Linked DNA regions of Homo sapiens. The protein of the gene in region 4 purifies or fractionates together with the protein of the main gene of each other region. This does not show direct contact. Each region holds a gene or a part of one and is shown on either strand. Other genes may lie near its edges.

Region 1 (3,500 bases), on a different chromosome or scaffold from region 4:
GAAAATGAGCTCCTTGTGGAGGTTCCCTAAGGTTAAAAAAAGAATTCCACAAAATGTTTGTAAAATCCATCCATACTAGTCAAATAATCTGACTAAGATGCAGTGACTATAGAACTAAAATCATCATAAATATGAATCCTTTCAACAAAAAGCACTTAACATCAGTATGGCCTCTGACCAATAATTTAACCTATATTTGTACATCTGTGGTTCACAATGAATCATAAAACCATGTGATATCTTGTGATATCTCTGGTGGAAAAACATCAGAATAGTAGTTATTTCTGGAGGGGTGGGATAAAGATTAACTTGGACAGGGCAGGAGAGAACTTTCTGGGGGTGATAGGTAATATTCTGTATCTTTGATAGGGCTGGGGTTACACAGGTGTATACATTTATCAAAACTTAGCAAATGTACATTTAAGACGTGTGTCTCATGTAATATTTACTTCAGAAAAAAACTGTAAAGAAAGACTGAATCATTTTATTTATTTATTTATTTATGAATGAGACGGAGTCTTGCTCTGTAGCCCAGGCTGGAGTACAGTGGCGCGATCTCAGCTCACTGCAAGCTCCGCCTCCCAGGTTCATGCCATTCTCCTGCCTTAGCTTCCTGAGTAGCTGGGACTACAGGTGCCTGCCACCACGCCCGGCTAATTTTTTGTATTTTTAGAAGAGACGTGGTTTCACCGTGTTAGCCATGATGGTCTCAATCTCCTAACCTGCTGATCTGCCCGCCTTGGCCTCCCAGAGTTCTGGGATTACAGGCGTGAGCCACCGCACCCGGCCAAGACTGAATCATTAATGGTATGAATGATGAAGTATTTAGGTGGAAATATACTAATGTCTGCAGTTTATTATGAAATGCAAAAATGAACAAGACCAATTGATGGATGAAATGTGATGAAACTAGTAGAGTAAAATGTTAATGGTAGATCTAGGTGGTGAGTTTACTGTAAAGTTCTTTCTGTATGTGTGAAGATTTTCCTAATATTAGAAAAAGAGTGATATGTTTGAATGACTGCAGAAAAGCTTGGAATGACATTCAGACTGTTAATATGTTGTTACCTTTGGGAATGGGGAAAGGATTTATGTTTCAAACAATACAGGAATGGGTGAAGTATTAAAAAATGAGCTTATTATTACTTATGTAATTAAAATCCAAAAGGGAAGAAGTTAATTAATTTCAGTGTTTACTCAGGGGTGGTCCAATATTTTGGCTTCTCTTGGCCACATTGGAAGAAGAATTGTCTTGGGCCACACATACAATACACAAACATTAACAATAGCTGATGAGCTTTAAAAAAAAAAAGATCTGTGCATGTTTTAAGGAAATTTACTAATTTGTGTTGGGCAGCATTCAAAGCCATCCTGGGCCACACTGAGGCCTGCGGGCCATGGGCTGGACAAGCTTGGTTTACATTGACTAGCTTAGTCCCTCCCAATCTCTGAAACTACTTTGTTGGTCGTGGTGGGGGTTGCAATTCCCTTTATAAATGATGAAACAGGTAGAACTAGGCTTTCATAGTAATTAGATACACAACAGAAATTACAATTCCATGTCAAGTTTTTAGCCTGGTGCTTTAACAAGATTATATAATTGCCCTTGAACTCATAGTTATAATAAGGATTAATCAAGAATAGGGACTATTCATTCTCTTGATTGCCTCCTCCCTCTCCCTCCTCATATAAATTTTACTTATTTTACTCTGTCATTCTTAAAAGAATTAGGTTAGAGCAAAGAATATACTTTGACTCAGGCTGGAAAAAGACATGGTGGCCAGAGAGAAGTTAAATAAGCCCAGGTATCTCCTAAGGTATCAGGGCAGTTACAGGGACCAGGTTGGATTAGGCTCTTCAGGGAGAGAACTCAATCTAGAAGAAACAAAGATTTGGAGTTGGGAGAGAAGAGAGTTTAGTTAATAAACAGATGATGGCCAAAACAGAGCCGTGACGGTGTTAGTAAGTGCAGCTGTGAAGACTTCCTTGCCCTTTTTTGTAGTGAGTATAGAAAAGAAAGTGAAGAACAGATTAGCCAGGTGTGGTGGCTCACGCCTGTAATCCCAGCACTTTGGGAGGCTGAGATGGGCGGATCACGGGAGGTCAGGAGTTCCAGACCAGCCTGGCCAACAAAGTGAAACCCCGTCTCTATTAAAAATAGAAAAATTAGCTGGGTGTGGTGGCACGTGCCTGTAATCTCAGGTACTTGGGAGGCTCAGACAGGAGAATCGCTTGAATCCAGGAGACAGAGTTTGCAGTGAGCTGAGATTGTGCCACTGCACTCCAGCCTGGGCGAGACAGCGAGACTCTGTCTCAAAAAAAACCAACTCCACTCCCCCCTTCCCCCCAAAAAACCCATATTAAATATAGTGCAAAGTTAGAGATTTAAGTTAGAGCAAAGGTATGAAGAATATGCTTCCGTAAAATGTGGCTATTTAGCAGTTTAGAGGTAAGTATCACAGGAAACACTGGACCTCTAGGTGGGTAAAAAAGAGCATGCAAAAAGCTGAGCTACGGTTTGAGTTCATCAGCCCTTACATGGCACAAGCGCTAGAAATACAGTAAATGACAAATAGCAAGCATCCAATATAGTCACATATTTCACTGCTGAATTTCTTTCCTATAATTATTTTAAACCAATCTAGATTGGATTCCCTGACAAAGGAGAGTTGGTATGTAGTAGCATATGTATTCTTTGTTAAGAAATGTGTGGACATTTCTTTGTGATTGAGTCTTGAAGGTTTGCATGAAGACTAAATGAGATAATGTACACACTGCATTTAACTGGCAATTGTACGTGGTACTATCATTCCTTTTTATAGATGAGGAAACTGAGGCTGAATGGTTAAGAAACTACTGGTCACACAGCCGGGAAATGATGGACCTCCGAGTTGAACTCCAACAGATTTGACTTTGAAACTTGAGCTGCAATTTGTTACATGGACAAAAGACTTCAGTTGGTGCCTGTGGCAGGGTCCTCCGATTCAGGGGCCCTTAAACATCAGGATGGTGGGGCTTAGATTAGGCAGAACCCTCTGACTCTTGTCTTCTGGCCTTATCTGATTATCTCGGGTGCCATATAAACATTATCCTTTTTCACTGTTCCTGATGTGAGGACTGCCGATGGAATTCTTGCTCAATTTCCCTGAGGAGTGTTGGGAAACCACTTAAAAACAAAAAACCCTGAAATGGAATAGTGTCTTAACCAGAACGCAAAAATACATCTTCAATTTAAGACCCTTCATACTGAGCCTTTAAAAATGGGGTTCCCTACTAAGCCATACCTCATTTTACTGTGCTTCACAGATATAAAGGTGTTTTTCTTTTTTACAAATTGAAGGTTTGTGCCAACCCTGCACTGAGCAGGTCTACTGGTGAAGTTTTTCCAACAGCATGTGTTCACTTTCTATCTCTGTTACCTTTTGGTAATTTCCACAATATTTCAGGCTTTTTCATTATTAAAATACGTTTTGGGGATCTTGCTGTTACTGTTGCAAGTA
Region 2 (3,500 bases), on a different chromosome or scaffold from region 4:
TCCTCCATAACCACGGGTGATCTGCAAGTGATCAAGTTCACTCTCTACAGGAAACTGTTTCTGGCAGTTTCTGATTTAACGGTCTGCTATTCTTTGCAGCGCCTCACTGTTTTAGAATCCCATGACATGCTTCGTAAATTCATCATATTTTTAAGAGACCAAGATCGATGCCGTGATGTATGTGAAAGTTTAGAAGGATGCCATACGCTTTGTCTAATGGGTAAGTATCCGTGGCTGGAACTTGATTGTGTCCTGGCCATCAGGGAAAGCCCGAGTGTTTTGCCTGTCACTATTCTAGAGATTTGGTTGTTTTCTGTAACAATTGGAAGTGCTTACAATAAAAAACACGTATTTAGATAGACAGTTAAAATAGACATGTAAATAAAAATCACATGGAAAATATTCCAGCCTGGCAAACTAGTTAAGTGACTGTTAATGAACATTAGATGTCAGCCTTTAGCTTCCTGGCAGTCAAGGAGAAAGTGAAAATGTGGTGAATTGCCTGGATAATTCCCATCTCAAGAGAGAAGGGAGGGAGTAGTTAGGTGGGGCTTATATCAGAGCAGCGCCTGCTTTACCTATTTTACAGTGTTTTCATTGTAGATGGAAGAAAGGGTTTATGAATAGAAGCATTTGAGGCAGAGGCACAGAATTCTCCTTGCCTAAATTTATTTTAGATAGGAAAAGTTTTTTTTGTTTTTTTTTTTTTGAAGACAGGGTCTCACTTTGTCACCCAGGCTGGACTGCAGTGGCACAGTCATGGCTCACTGCATCCTCTACCTCCTGGGCTTAGGTGATCCTCCCACCTCAGCCTCCTGAGTAGCTGGGACTACAAGCGCACACTACCACGGCCGACTAATTTTTGTATTTTTAGTGGAGACGGGGTTTTTCACCATGTTGCCCAGTCTAGTCTCCTTGGGCTCGAACAATCCACACGCCTCAGCCTGCGAGATTACAGACTTGAGATAAAAACTTCCCTGGGGCCAAATTTCATGAGGAGTTTCTGGTGCGAATGTTCACACGAGTGACGTTGACTAACTGGTGAACGTTGAATAACAGCGACTTCCCACGACACTCAGATACTCTTCAAAGACCATTTCTTATGTTAACCCTTGATTTTTAAGCATTAATATAATATTAAAATGTAACACTAACTAAATATCACCTACCTCTGTGTGCCTAACATTTTACCTGCCACTTCATCCTCATATGGAGAGTAGGGATCATCATTCCAATCTTACAAATGAAGAAACAAGTTTGAGACATGGGTTGACGGCCACGGCTCACCTTGTCTGTGGCATAGCCAGGATTTGAAGTCAGCTTGGCCCGTTTCTTACCTTTGCACCACACAGCAGCCTCCGGCATTGACAGGTGCCCCTTATGTGGAAATTTCTTGCTGCACATGGGATGTGGCCGCCTGAGCCACAGGCAGGGAGCAGGGCCGGGAGGCACCAAAATGTTTGTCTGGGCCCATCACACTCAGCCTTCTCTCTCTGTAGGCAACCTCCTACACTTGGGCTCCCTCAGCCCCAGAGTGTTAGAGGAGGAGACAGATGGGTTCGTGAGTTTGCTCACCCAGACGCTGTGCTACTGTCGGAAGTATGTGTCTCAGAAGAAGTCCAACCTGACCCACTGGCATCCTGTCCTTGGCTGGTTCTCCCAATCTGTGGATTATGGGTGAGTCCCAGATGCAAATCACTGTCTTTCCTGCCTCTCTCCCACCATCTTCTTCTTCCTTCTTTCTTTCTTCCAGCTTGTGGTGTTTTGTTTCTTATTATAAAAATAATATGTATTCATTATATATTAATAAATTGTGAGTAAGAACAAAAGAGGATAAAAACCAGCCCATTATCCTGTAAACCAAAGATAACTTGAGTGAACATCCTGTCAGTTTTCCTATCTAGAAATACTGATCCTTTTTTACAAAATTGAAATCCTATTATTTTGTATTTTGTTCCTTCCATTCAGCTATGGACCTTATCAATGTTTTTTCTTCTTCACTGTCACTTTTTGACTAGACTGCCATATTTTGGAGATGCTAAAACAAGACAAATGATTCAAAGGGAATAGAAATCACCCAAAATCCTTTTCAAGAGGTGGAATATAAATTTTTAAAAGTGTAATTATGAACTTAAAAACATGAGAAACACTAGACTAGAAGAAGGGAGATCAAGTAAGGTGCAGCTTCATGAATTTGAAATATCTACCTGAGCTGAGATAAAGTGGTTTCTGGAGAGGAACCAGCTCTGCTGCCCCAGCTGTTTTCTTGTTCACATATCTGCTCGAGGCATGGGGTCCCTGGCAGTTACCCTTGCAGCAGAAAACTAAAGGCCTGGGGAGGAAATCCCCAAATTTTTCTTTTGTTGTACCTGAGTGACATCCCTGGGTCCTATCTAGTTAAAAAGACTCATTGCTAGGGAACAGCCTGCCCCAGCGTGACACCTCAGCCTGAGGAGGATGGGGCGGAGGTGCTGAGAGTCAGGAGGCTGTGGGAGGTAAGTGAAGGAGAGCAGCACCTCCGCAGACAGCCTGCTCTCCGCTCCACTTCCTCTTCTTGGAGGGACTTGGACGACTTGCTTTGCCTTGCTTTCCTCATCTGAAACCTGGGGATAATTTTCACCCTCCCTTTGATAGGGCTTTCTAGAAAGATTGAATGAGATAATGCATGTGAAGCACCTACCAGCAGGCAGGCCTGGCCGTACTCAGGGGTGGCGGCTATTAACAATATGATGATCAATGTGGGAACCACTAGGAGTCTCACCTCACCTTCTTGAGCAGGAAGGTGACAGCAGATTCCAGGAAGTTGAGGGATGCTGAGTGCAGTGTGGAGTCAGGCAAGGAACCCCTGGAATGCAAGGAAACACTGAGGAGGCTGCTGAGTCATCTAGATTTGGCCCCCCACCACCTGCAAGCCAGCTATGAGGAGGGAGGCAGTGCAGTGGGTACAAGATTGTTTTTGTCACCTGGGTGGTAGCAAGTGTCTTCGAGAAGAGTGTGACTCATGGAGCTTGGGGACCTGGGGAAAGCAGACAAGATGAAGAGTCAATGCCCTTGACGTACCAGCCCCTCAGCAATGATTTGTTAGTTCCACTTTTTATTTTTGTAATCTTCTTTGCCATGTTGAGTGCCAGGTCCTAGCTACAGCTCCGAGTGGAAGGCCATTAGGAACTGTGTGGGCTGGCCCTGGCCCTGCATCAGATGGAACTGACAGACCAGGTCTCCTCTGCTCTCTCCTAGCCTTAACGAGTCAATGCACTTGATCACCAAACAGCTGCAGTTCTTGTGGGGGGTGCCTCTGATCCGGATCTTCTTCTGTGACATCCTGAGCAAGAAGCTACTGGAGAGCCAGGAGCCAGCCCACGCACAGCCAGCATCCCCTCAGAATGTGCTCCCAGTGAAGAGTGAGTGACGGGAGCAGGCCCAACCCTGTAGCTCCACTTGGCTGAAGTACAGCTCCTGTTTCTTCCTATATGGATGTTCCGCTGTGTTTGTGGGATGCT
Region 3 (3,004 bases), on a different chromosome or scaffold from region 4:
TTTGATAGTTCATACCTCACGTGGAGCAGATAAGCAATTAAGAGTTTTGGCTTAAAACTTTTCTCCTATTCCCAGAAAACAAAAGGTGTTGTTGTCATTGTTCTTAGTCAATAAAGCACTATCTACACAAAGAAGGTAATAGGACATATCTGAGAACAATCTGTTGAGATGTAGCTGAGATTACAATCTGAAAAACTGAACAGAATTCCAAAAGAAAGCCGTGTTATTTTAGCATAGTAAAATGTAATATAAAGTGTACCATGTGTCTGAAATTTAATGTCTCTGAAGTAGCTAGGAATTTTTGTAGCTCCGCCAACCCATTCTACCACATAATCATTGAGATTACAATTAAACTAGCTACTAAAACTTAACAAACAAGGAAAATGGAACCAACAGAAAACTAAACTAGGTTAATTTGTAGAGAAATGATAACTATGCATAGGTTTTTTTAAAGAGACAGGACTTATTTTAAGGATTTTTAAATTGAATTCATAAAGCAGTTAAATTTTTGGGAATTTATTGATTTGCATTTAAAAGGGAACTGCTGACAAAGATTCACTGGTAATAATTTGAACAAGTTGGAAAATACAGTCAACATTACTGAAACACTACTAAAATAATTCCAGGACAGAACAAAACTTCTTAGATGCTGTCTTTGATGTGAAAATTGACTGCTTCTTACTTTTCTAACACACGGTGGTATAATTAACAATATTCAATCACTTCTATTCTTTCCTGCATATATAAAAATTAAAATACCAATTAAAAAACTAATATATCTTCTCTTTATTTCTTACAGATATGAGTTCAATGTTTCACTCAATAGTGCTGTGGTTTAAGAGAATTTTTTCATTTACAAGTTAAACAACAATCCGCCCAAAGGGAACTGATAGTCTATAGGCTCATAGTGCAAATAAACAGTTTAGGAATGCAGCAACTGACATTTCTAAAGTACAAAACAGATAAAATTCTTAGAAGATACATGCAAAAAGCTCTACTAAGCAGATGGCCACAGAACTAGAACATTGATAATTTTACTGGCGATGTCAATAGGACTCCAGATGTTTCCAAACTCAACTTGAACTCTCATCTTAGGCTTTGTATTTTGCTTTTCCAGTTTCACTAATGACACAAACATGCTATAAAAAAAAATCCAGAAATTCACATTTAAAAAGTATATTCTGAAATGAAAGGCAAGAATAGCATTTTACATATAAGAACACTATTAGTTGTCAGGGTTCTTACTAAACAGAGATAGTACTACTGTATTTTAGATCAGTAACTTTTGGGGAGTGTATCTTTTGAAAACAAAGCAGTAGTCTATCACATTAGTTTAATTTGTTTCTTGTTTTTGTTTTTTTTTTTGAGACGGAGTCTTGCTCTGTCACCCAGACTGGAGTGCAGTGGCACGATCTCTGCTCACTGCAAGCTCTGCCTCCCGGGTTCACGCCATTCTCCTGCCTCAGCCTCCCGAGTAGCTGAGACTATAGGCGCCCGCCACCACCCCAGCTAATTTTTTCTATTTTTTAGTAGAGACGGGGTTTCACCGTGTTAGCCAGGATGGTCTCGATCTCCTGACCTTGTGATCCGCCCGCCTCAGCCTCCCAAAGTGCTGGGATTACAGGCGTGAGCCACCGCGCCCAGTCTGTTTCTTGTCTTAATACGTAGTTTTTTGTTTTTTGTTTTGTTTTGAGACAGAGTCTTGCTCTGTCACCCAGGCTGGAGTGCAGTGGCGTGATGTTGGCTCACTGTAGCCTCTGCCTCCCGGGTTCCAGTGATTCTCCTGCCTCAGCCTCCCAGGTAGCTGGGTTACAGGCACACACCACTACGCCTGGCTAATTTTTGTATTTTTAGTAAAGGTGGGGTTTCATCATGTTTGCCAGGCTGGTCTCGAACTCCTGACCTCAAGTGATCTGTCCGGCTTGGCCTCCCAAAGTGCTAGGATTACAGGTGTGAGCCACCGCAACCAGCCTCAATATGTAGTTTTGAAAGACAAATCAAGGAGATAATTTCAAGCATATCAAAGTGGGAGGCCAGTGTACGTGGCAAAAAAAGATGGAGTAAAAAACCTGCTTTAGGTAGTGTACTGTTGCAGTCTTCCTAAATCTTCCTCAACCATGTTCATAAACACATCCATGGGACTTCTGCCTCCAGAGTAAGAGGCAGGTATTCAAAGGACAGTGAATTAAAAGACTAAACTCGATCATTTATTTCTTACTTATGACCACATTTATCATCTGAAATAATAATGCAACAATTATTGTATATTAAAGCTGTTCAACTATTTCAGCCAACAAGAAGTGTCACCCTAGCCTGGCCAGGTTCCAGTTCTAAGGACGTCTGTACTAGACTACAGCTTTATGTGACTAATGGGAACCATCAGTCTGTTCAAATTATGAGGTGCTGGAAGGAGAAAACAATTCTCTTTCCTAAATTTTTATGCGTGTTTTGAAAAATGAGTGAGAAAAAGAAGCAATTACTTACATTCAAATCCCTGAAGTATTCATTATAGTCAAGGGCATATCCTACAACAAACTTGTCTGGAATTTCAAATCCAACAACTAAAAAGAATCATAATTCATCATTTAGATAAAGAAAACATCACTTTTAAATCTAATACTGGCAAATGTGCCTCTCTACAAATATTCTCTAAGCAATTATAAGCCATTTCACATAAAACTCTTTTAGGTTAAAGATGGTTAAATGATTGACAAAAAAAGTAATTCACTTACAGTCTGGCTTATATCCAACACTTCGTGGGGTCCTTTTCACCAGCAAGCTGTTAATTACAAAATGTGACATATAACATACAGAGAGACTACAGGGCATTACAAAAGAGAAGACTGACGTTTCTAAACACTGTTTCATTTCATCCGTGCTGAGTGTACCATGGTCACTTTTAACACACCCAAGGAAAGACTATGAAATGGAGAGCTAAATTATGGGGATTACTAGGAAGGGGCAGCAATGAGTTGACACTACAGACAAGGCACTTGGTTGATCA
Region 4 (4,051 bases):
CCACCAGTGAGAAGTTGTAGACAATCATGAAGCCACGGAGCTGGAAGGGCTTCCGATTAGCCATGATGCGAGGCCCAAGTGAGAGAACGAAGTACACGTAGGTCAGGAGAATGGAGGTCATTAGCAAGGGGGACCCCATCAGAGGGTAGCCCTGGATCCGGGGATCTATGAATAAGGGTCAAAGGAATCAGGAAGAGTCACAGGGTTCGAAGGGTCTTCATTTGAAGGGTCTACAGACATGAGGTCAGGTCACAGGATCAAGGGTTTCATAGGAACTCTCCATTAGAAGACAGCCGTAGATCCAGGGATCCCGGGAAAGAAGGAAGGAAAGGGCTGGTGGATAGCGTCTTACCTGCGTGCTTCATCACCTCTTGGTACAAGTTCACAACAGCCTCCATCCTGGCTAAGGACTCTGGGGAGGTACAGAGGGCGGATGTCAGACAGATCCCACTGCACACCCCCATCCCACAGAGATAAGACACAGAACCAGACAAGACACCTGCAATGCCTCATTGCAGAAAGGACAGAACAGTGAAAGGAAGGAATTACTGGGAACTAGGGGGAGGAGGCAGTTTGGTTGAGGCATCTGCTCCCCACACATCCTGCTTGCCTGGGAAGAGCTGTTCCACCCTTCCTCTCCACACCTTACTCTCCTCTCCTCTCCACAGTTTTACTTCCTGGCCTCCCTTCCCCTCTTCCTCCACAAGATAACTCTCAATTCCAGGTCTCTTACTGGAGAATCTTACCTTCTCACCAACAGGGAGCTCTTGAACTCCGTCTCCCTTCCTCACCCGAGTCCCTCACCTCCCCAGCTCTGGGTCTTTCTTCTCTCCAGGGATTCTCCCCTTCAATCTCTCCTCTCCTGCCCTCTCCTCTTCCCATCCCTCTGGACCCTTCCTGAACTCTCTTCTCCCCAGGGTCCCTCCTGTCCCTGCCAGGACTCTCACCTCTCTGGGCCCTTCTGTCCCTCCAGAACCTTATCCTCGGATTCCTCCTTGCCTGTGCTGGGACACTTATGTCCCTACGATTCTCCTCTGCCTTTCCTGGGACTCTCACCTCCAGCCTCTCCTCTCCAGCGCTCTCCTCTCTCCTCTCGCAGAGCCCTTCCTCTCCTGGAGCCTGGCTCTTTGAGACTCCTGCCCCGGCGGCTCCACCTGTCTGACTAGATCTGGCAGCAGCCCCGCCCTCTGCCCGCCCCTGCTGTACTGTGCAGGGGGTGGAGGGTGGGTCCGGGCCACAGGTCAGTGCCTGGGGGAGCAGGACCCACCAGGATTGGGAAAGCCAAGTAAAGCCCCAGACTCGCCACCCACCCACCCACGTGGGACCAGCCTGATGAGCTAAGGTCCTAGATTCTGAGCCAGAAACCTCCTCTGACCCCAGCCCCAGCCCCAGCCCTGGCCCAAAGCACTGCTGAAAATCCACACCCAGCATCCTCTCCTAAGCCGGCCATAACTGCTCAGTTTGTCCTACTTCAGAATGGGTACAATCACTCTTCCCTTCCTGGGAAGGGCAGGGAAGCCAGTGGCATGTGAAGGGGTTGGGGAGTGGGGGAGGTCGCAGGAATCTTCCCCTCCCTCAGGGAGGGGCCCCGTTGGGCTAGGCCCCCTCCCCCTCAGGGCCTGAAGGAATGTCGGGGGAAGGCTCCCAGGGACACAAAAGCCTCTGGCCAGACCCAGGAGAGCATGGTACTGACAGTCCCTGAGGGACAAGGCATTCTTGGAACAGAGCAGGGCCCAGGGCAGCAGGTGCCCCAGACTCCCTGCTTCCAGAGAAGCACCTCTGCAGATGCCAAGTGAAGAGGCGCACCTCTGACACCTCCCTGCCCCGCACACCCCTCACCTCCAGGAGGCCCGGCTTCTTTAGGCCCACCGTGGTCAGGCCCCAAGCCTGCGGTCCACACCCACCTCTCACCTAGCTCTCCACCCCCAACAGCGAAGGTGCCACGCCGAGGGCTGGCACACACGTCTCCTGCCTGACACACCACGCAACACCTCCGTGGGCTGACACGCATGGCTCCCGGCCCTCACGCAGCTCGGCCACCGCCCAGGCACACGCACGGGCTCACCCGCGGGGCCACTCACACACGTGTGCGCGCTGCCTGGCCACGCTCGGATCCCCTCCTTACTTGCTCCCCCACCATCGGGCTTGCTGGCCGCCCATCGCCGGCAGGGCCCAGGCCGGGGCGAGGGCGCCAACACAGGTTCCTCCCTGACACATGGGAGCCAGCCAGCCTGTTATCTCTCAACCACCAGCCCCCAATATCAACCCACACACCCGGCAGGCCAGGAGGGACCAAGGCTCCTGGGAGGACCTCTCCCCAAGCTGCAGGAAAATCTGGGTGTGTCTCTCGTCGGGGAACTCAGCCCGTCCCTTCCTTCCTTTAAGATGGATGGAAGGGAAAAGGTGCCTGGCAAAGTTAGGGTAGCGGGGGGAGGGAGGGGAGAGGAGGAGGGAGAGAGGTAAATGCAGGGGTGGTGGAGGAAGGCCCGGGTGTAGGCAAATGGGGGCCAGAGACGGGGGTGTGGGGGAGGGAGGGTGCTGGCGAGGCCCGGCCCCAGGGAGCTGGGACCTCCCACCCACTGGCCCCGGGAACACCCTCGCCCACAGCCTGGGCAGGGCAGGGCAGGGCTGGGCCGGGCTGGGCCGGGCTGGCCAGGCAGGGGGCGCCGGCACGTGGAGAGTCCGTGGAAGGTCCAGACTCACCCGTAGGGGCCAGGCGGGCAACGGCGGAGCGCTCGGAGGGAGCAGGGCCAGAGAGAAGTCCCCGGGGCCAGCCTGCCTGCCTGCCACTTCCTCATCTGCTGGGCCGACTTTCTGTCACCAGAGGGGGAGGGGCGGGCCGCGCGGGGGGCGCCCGCTGATTGGGCGGCCGGCAGGGCCGGAGGCCGGCAGCGCAGGCTCGGCCGGGGCGGGGGCAGGGGCGTGCCGCCGGGTCCCAGCAGGAAGCGCCGCGGCCCGGGCTTCCCACCCCTTCCCTCGCCGCCCGGGCCCGCCCTGGCCAGTTGCAGCGGCCTGGCCACCTCAGGAGCACGCTGTCTCTTCCCGACGTGCAGCCCGGGGCCCGGCCCTGTCCCCGGGTGACTGCTCCCCGGCAGGACTGCACATCTGTGGCGGCAGGCCCAGCTCAGGGCTCGGGGGAGGTTCGGCCTTGCCTTCAAAGAGCTCCCTCTCCTGCAGGGCGAGCGCAGAGCGGCGGGCGAGACCACACTGCGTGTGCTGAGGGCGCACTGGTCTTAGCGGGAGGGAAGCCTCACGAGCCTGTACACTTGGAGGAGCCCTAAGCGTTAGGATCTGCTGCGAGGGCTGCCTGGAACGGAGGTGAGAGGATACAAGTGGCCCGGGGCAAGCATAGTGAATCACTGGCTAATCTGGCCTTCGAGGTAGTGAAAGGAAAAAAGGGAAATGAAGCTGACTGTGGCTGAATGTAGTAGGTCTTGAAGGCCAAATGGGGCGATCTGATTTTTATTCTAGAAGCAGAGGAGAAACTAAAGATTTTTTTAGGAGACTATATTCAAGCTTGTATCATTAGTTCATCAGACGTTTATGGACCACCCACCGTCCGTGCACTCACGGGGCTTGCAGTCTATCTGGCTGAATCACTTTGGCAGCCAGTGTGAGGAGGGCACAGAAAGGAGACCAGGTGAGAAAGCCAGCCTGACCAAAGAAGATGTGGCAACTGATGGGATTGGAGGAGGCGGACAATGTCCTCCAGACAGCTGGACTGGCTCTCTATATATTTATTTATCTCTTCTACACCTCCAGCCCCCACCTCCACACTCACTAACTGGACTCAACTAGTGGGGGCAAAGGACAGACTAGATTTTAGTGAAATGGAATTTCTACCTCCAGCGGCCCCTGGAACAGTAGCACACAACGATCTAACAACTGCTTGTATGATTGGATGGTGTAAGTGCGGACAGAATTAGGGAATTTGGGCTACTCTGGGCACACTGCTTATGGGGCAGCCCTGCTCCGCAAGGAAAATAAACACATTTTTTTAAAAAAAGGCCGGGCGCGGTGGCTCACGCCTGTAATCCCAGCACTTTGGGAG

What was found. The genes of interacting proteins can lie anywhere in the genome.
Region 1: the proteins of ELOVL1 (region 4) and DHFR purify together in Homo sapiens (affinity purification with mass spectrometry; one large-scale study listed by BioGRID and IntAct). This does not show direct contact.
Region 2: the proteins of ELOVL1 (region 4) and UBE3B purify together in Homo sapiens (affinity purification with mass spectrometry; one large-scale study listed by BioGRID and IntAct). This does not show direct contact.
Region 3: the proteins of ELOVL1 (region 4) and HPRT1 purify together in Homo sapiens (affinity purification with mass spectrometry; one large-scale study listed by BioGRID and IntAct). This does not show direct contact.

What each region holds. Positions count from the first base shown.
Region 1 is NC_000005.10:80,637,984-80,641,483, forward strand, and holds part of DHFR (dihydrofolate reductase), read right to left. Parts: intron 27-3,500; coding exon 1-26.
Region 2 is NC_000012.12:109,498,134-109,501,633, forward strand, and holds part of UBE3B (ubiquitin-protein ligase E3B), read left to right. Parts: intron 1-99; coding exon 100-220; intron 221-1,499; coding exon 1,500-1,677; intron 1,678-3,237; coding exon 3,238-3,401; intron 3,402-3,500. UniProt on the Homo sapiens protein: E3 ubiquitin-protein ligase which accepts ubiquitin from an E2 ubiquitin-conjugating enzyme in the form of a thioester and then directly transfers the ubiquitin to targeted substrates.
Region 3 is NC_000023.11:134,498,165-134,501,168, reverse strand, and holds the end of HPRT1 (hypoxanthine-guanine phosphoribosyltransferase), read right to left. Parts: intron 2,780-3,004; coding exon 2,733-2,779; intron 2,562-2,732; coding exon 2,485-2,561; intron 1,140-2,484; coding exon 1,092-1,139; 3' UTR 501-1,091; downstream 1-500. UniProt on the Homo sapiens protein: Converts guanine to guanosine monophosphate, and hypoxanthine to inosine monophosphate. Transfers the 5-phosphoribosyl group from 5-phosphoribosylpyrophosphate onto the purine.
Region 4 is NC_000001.11:43,365,212-43,369,262, forward strand, and holds the start of ELOVL1 (very long chain fatty acid elongase 1), read right to left. Parts: upstream 2,801-4,051; 5' UTR 2,704-2,800; intron 2,504-2,703; exon of another isoform or gene 2,275-2,503; intron 413-2,274; 5' UTR 399-412; coding exon 353-398; intron 166-352; coding exon 1-165. UniProt on the Homo sapiens protein: Catalyzes the first and rate-limiting reaction of the four reactions that constitute the long-chain fatty acids elongation cycle.